Regions from separate parts of the Homo sapiens genome. Here region 2 is linked to region 1. A link means that fine-mapping ties the variant in region 1 to the expression of a gene that starts in the linked region. Tissue or cell type: spleen. Region 1 holds a variant in brackets; the other region holds the start of a gene. All regions are shown on one strand. Distances are between the middles of the regions.

Region 1 (2,752 bases):
CCACATATTGGGGGATGGAGGGGGGAGGAAAAGGCAGCAGAGGGGTGGTAGTAGGGGGGACCTGGAGCTTGTCATCTGAAATTAATTGAATTTAGCCATGCCAAGAAAACACTGGTAATAAACCCTCCCCATCTAAATTAAGGGTTTTATACCATGAAAAAAAATAAAAATTTACGGCAGTAATTTCATCTGGGTTTTTCAAAAAGTGCTTGCTGATTTTCTTGTACTCAGTAGAAAAATCCCCAAGGAGCAATGCAGACTGCAATAAGGCAGACTTCTAAAAAGATACCATTTAATTTCTCACTCCTCCCTTTGCACTATTACACACTTCCACTTTTCTCTAACTCAGTATTAACTCTCTCAACACAATTCTCTTCCATTAACTCTGAGCAACATCTTACAGGGCAGGTGAGAGTGCCTGATCTGCAAATGCCTATCCATTGCTCTTAGCAAGATAAGGACAAGTCAAGAAAACCAGAAGCCCCGGAAGCGCATGCATGAATTCTTTATGATACCTGGCCATCTTAATTGAAGGCATCAAAAGTCTTAAAGGCTTAAAAATAACCCCAAAACAAATCCATCACTCAATGTCTTTAATGCCAGTGACAAGAACAGATGAGTGAATTCAGTTCCCAACTTGTGGGTCATAGGCGACATGGCAGGTACAGAGGCCAAGCACAGATATATCTGCAAAGGTTCTGCAGATCTCCATGGGTACAAAGCACTGGCTGAAGACCAAATGTTTAATGTATACAATATAGAGTATTCATTTTCTAATGAATTTTCTATCTAATGTCCATAGATATTGCTGTGATGAATAAAACAGAAATTTATTAAAACGAGAACAAAATTCACAGTTGCTTTTTGTTCACTTTCTCAATGGATGCTGTAAGTTAAAAAGTTAACTTACAGTTCTAAAAATTTTTTTAGGCCAAAATGAGCCTTCACATTGAAGAAGACAGAGAACACCTGACGCGAGTGTTAGTGCAGGTTGAGTATCCCTGATCCAAGCATCCAAGATCCTCCAGAATCTGACTTTTTTGAGTGCCAACATGATGAGCAAAGAAAATGCTCATTGGAGCATTTCAGATTTCAGGTTTTCGGATTAGGAATGCTCAACCAGTAGGTATAATACAAATATTCCAAAATCAAAAAAAGTTCAAAATCCTTAACACTTCTGGTCCCAAGCATTTCAGATAAGGGACACTCAACCTGTATCTTCAGT[G/A]CTTTCCACTTGGGCACATAGTAAACACTCAATACTTGTTGATCATAGATGTGAGTACATTTTTCTTGGCCCCTTTTTGCATCTAGTTTTTCTTTCACTGCAGTCCCTGCCAATTTACATCACCAATCCCATCCCTTGGTGTATAAGAGAGCAACAGTTCTCAAAATGTAGTCTGGGGACTCCTGGGAGTCCCTGAGACCCTTCTGGGAGGTCTGTGAGATCAAAACTTCTGAATTCAGAGAAGTTATTTACCTCCCATGTCTGTGCACTTGAGCTTTCCACAGGCTCCATCACCTGTTCTGTCACAACAGATTGAATGAGAAATGGAGAATCCAGCAGTCTTCTCTTTATTATGCCAGACATTAAGATTTGCAAGGCTACTCTCTCCATTAAATTAATTTTTAAATAGTTATTTTTCATCAAAAATGATATCTATATTGACATGTAATGGGTTTACTGTTGTATTTTTAAGACAACAAATAAATATTGACATATCCTGCATAAACAAAAGCTCTTTGGGGTCCTCAACAATTTTTAAGAGAATAAAGGGCTCCTGGGAACAAAAGTTTGAGAACTACTGGTATAGAGATAGCAATCTGCAATATCCTGGTGTCAATGAGAAGCTGGTTTCTATTGTCAAGAACTCTGCTAATCCCTAGAGATGCTGATGCTGGACACCTGCCAGATGGGGATGTTGTAAAGGGGATTCAAATGTTGGCTTGGGTGGCTGGGCCAGCTGCTCACCATGGTCTGTTCTAACAGAAGATTCTATAATTCTGTCTGAGAGGGAACCTAAAGAAGTCTTTCAGAGCTTTGGCTACTGACATGGAATATGAATAACACTTAATTTACCTTCATTTTGCTACCCACGAAACAATATGAGTACATTTTTTTTCCATGGTGTATTCTCTTCATTTTGGTATAATATTTCCAACATTTTGGAAGCAAGGTGATTTTTAAATTTTGCTTGTTGAGTTTTTATTAAAAGAAAAGCTTTCTCTTCCATGTCCAGCCTCCTACCATGTTCAAATCACAAAGACCAGTACCATTTGCTCTGAAGGGAAAGAATGCTAAGGGAAGAGGACTCTGAGAATGTCCTATAGACCAAGGTCAATAACGAGGCAAACATTCTGCTGACAGAAATCCCCAAGGCAAATACACAAATACCAAACCTGCAGAGATGAGCAGGATATCTTCATCTTCTGCGCAGGTCTTACTCTTGCGTAACACAGAAATAGGATGGCTTATCATTAATGAGCACACTGTGCCCACAGAAATGAATAAGTTGTTTAGAATATATGGCATCAGATTCATGAAGGGAAAGAGCTATTAGGAAAATAAAATGACCATACTTGTGCAATTTGATTCAATTCAATGAACGTTAACTGAGTGCCTGTTACATTCCAGCCATTATTCTAGGTGATCATGAAGAGAGGATAAATAAGCTTTACTGTCCAAGAACTCACACTCTGAAAGGGAAAACAGGTAAATCACTGTAACGCAATGTGATAAGTGATATAAAAGTAG
Region 2 (2,603 bases), 810 kb after region 1:
CTCCGCCAAATCGAGCAGCTGCCAGTCTGGCGTCGCTTCAGTCCTAAGATGCGCCACCCCTAGAACCCTCCCCGGCCTCCTCCGCCCTGCTAGGCCCCACCCTTGAGGAGCCTCTGCTCAGATTTACCTCTGAGTCCTCCCCTGAACCCTGCCTTCAGCCTTTCTGGGCAGCCGCGCGGCGGCGGCGCGCCCAGTCCTTGTGTCCGAAGACTCGGAGTAAAGCGGGTTCAGCCAGAGAGCGGCCCTGCGTCCGCCCTCCTCTCGAACCCGGGTCTGCGCACGTCGAGCCCCCTCTCTGCGTTGAGGGTGGCCCCGACCAGCACGCCTCGGGCCCAATCCACCCACCCTCCGGGACAAACGCGCCTTCCCCCAGGCTCCTACGGCCGCGCCCTCGCTCCTGCGCATCCTTAGACCCGGCGCCCCTGCCGTCCCAGCTCCCAGTTCGCAAACGTGCGCCCGGGTTCCCCCTCTGGAAGCGGCCAGGTGTGGCGTTTAGCTCTTTGCCACGGGTGCGGGTGCGACCAACCCCCAAGCAGGCTCAAACGCGCCCTTTCCCGGGTCAGGCCGGGCGGGGCCGGTTACGCGCGCGCCCCCTGCCGTAGTCGTCCTCGCCCCCAAATTTGGATGTGTCCCCAGGCATCTGCCTCCTCACCGGGCCAGCATGCCCTCTCGCCCCCAAGTAGGACTCAGCCCGGCTTCTCGCAGTCCTCTCGCTAGGGCGAGGGTCTTTTCCTCCGAGGTCCCCCAACCCTCTGGTCCCCGCGCAGGAACGCCCACCCCCGTTGTGCCCGCGTCTGCGTTCCCGACGTTTCCCTGAACAGGAAACACCTGACCAGGGCCTGAATAGGCCCCCTCGCCCTCGGCCCGTACACCCCGCGGCCCGCTACCCCATCCCGCCGCGCCCAGGCCGACGCCGCTCGCCCCTGACCCGGATCAGCGAGTCCAGCGCCGGGCGGTCCAGACACGTGAAGTTCTGCAACAGCTCCCACTTGTCGCGCTGGAAGCTGCGGCTGGAGTCCTGCGCCGCGCGGCCCTCCAGCGTCCAGAACACGCCGGTGCCCAGCGCCAGGTAAGCCAGGTAGGCGAGCAGCAGGAGCACGGTGCTGGGCACCGCGCAGCCCCGGACCCTGCCCTCGGGAGCCGCCCGGGCTCGCGGTCGGTACATAGCGGGAGAGGCGGGGAGCCGGCGCCGGGAGCGGTGGACTAGGACCCGGTGGGAGGGAAGGGCCAGGCGTCCAGCTCGTATCTCCTCTCGCAAACGCCTGCTGGTGCCCGGTTTCGCCGGGGAGGAGGAGTGTTGGGGAATGGGACAGCCTGGCCCCACCCAGCCCTGGGATCCAATCCCCGGGACAAAAAGAGGCTCTGAACTGTGGGCATCTGGCCCCGCCTCAAATGTGTGCGGGGTGCCCACCTGCTAGGCCTAGGCCAGGGAGAAGGAGGAAGCTGCTGGGTGACCGCAGGCGCTGAGGGAAGGGGCCCAGAGCCCCCTCACATTTCCTGAAATGAACAATGGGAGGGACTTCTGGAAACCGCACTCAGAGGTAGGAGATAGTAGAGACCAACTTTATTGTCTTGGGGCCCCTGCCTAAGTTCTTGGACTCGGGGGCTATCTCCAAGGACTTGCTGTCTGTCAATCTCAAGACCACCTTGGGTCTCCCACACCTCTGTCCTTTCCTTTGTACCCCAAAAGAGGGACCCCAGCTGATTGCCACTTGTCCATGAGCTTGGGAGGTAAGAGGAGCCTTAACCAAGAGGCTTGTCCACTCCTTGCTTCTGAGAAGGCCCCCGAAATCCCTCTACCTGGAGTGGAGGAAGCGTCTAGGCTGTGTGAAGAGTCCGTGGGTCCTCAGCTTCCCAGTCCTTTCTTGGATATGGGGAAGTCCTGGGGTGTGACTTGGACTCCTCTTGCTGCTGTAGAGCCTCTCCTGGGTCTCCTGCCTGGAGCCGCCTTGGCTCCACAGCCTTGCCTCAGACCTGTGCAGAGGAACCCAGCCACATAGGAGCCCACTTGCTGTTGGATGATGGGAGAGGCAAAGGCCAAAATTTCCAGGCCCCGGGATGGAGTGGTCTAAATCTCTCCTGGTCAGGGATGTTGCAGTCTGGCAGGGGAAAGGCCAGACCTGGAGAATGCATTCCTGAGAGAGGCCAGACGTTCATGGAGCTCACTTTCTGGAAGGATCCTGGGATCTGCTGGCTCTCTGGCTTCCCATGGGGTGTTTGGAAAGGCTCTTGAGAAGGCAGGAGCCCAGAGGGAGTGATGAAGTTAAGGGGGTGGCCTGTGAGGGTCAGGGGAGGCCATGTTCAGGAAAGTGGGTAGGACACCCAAGAGGTCCTAAGCTTTGTTCACAGACAGCCCTGGACTTCTAGGCAAGGGGAGCTGGCGAGCTTTGAGAGGCAGCTCGCCTGCCCCTCGGCTGAGAGCTTCCTGAGGGCAGAGATCCTCTTTTCACTAAGATTGTTCCAAAGTCTCTGCCCAGGTCTCCCCTCTCTTTGATGCTCCCTGCCAGCCATTCCCATGGGCTCTCATCAACCCTGGGGCTATTCCCATCATAGCATTTTGGGCACTGTGTTGGGGCTGCCTCTTTGCTTGCCTAGCAACTAAA

What was found. PIP is the estimated chance that this variant, and not a neighbour inherited with it, causes the effect.
Region 2: it holds the start of KCNK17, and the variant in region 1 is fine-mapped to the expression of KCNK17 in spleen (GTEx, PIP 0.93).

What each region holds. Positions count from the first base shown.
Region 1 is chr6:38,500,217-38,502,968 of GRCh38, forward strand. All of the region lies in intron 6 of BTBD9 (BTB domain containing 9), which reads right to left. Among named protein-coding and RNA genes, the nearest start is that of BTBD9-AS1, 20 kb to the left of the region's middle. The variant G/A (reference allele first, on the strand shown) is at 1,226.
Region 2 is chr6:39,313,156-39,315,758 of GRCh38, forward strand. It overlaps KCNK17 (potassium two pore domain channel subfamily K member 17), which reads right to left and starts at 1,264. Exons shown (of 5, transcript NM_031460.4): 1 at 929-1,264. The coding sequence starts at 1,165. It overlaps LOC105375047 (a long non-coding RNA gene), which reads left to right and starts at 801. Exons shown (of 3, transcript XR_926774.3): 1 at 801-1,069. It also overlaps a transcript of KCNK16 not described here.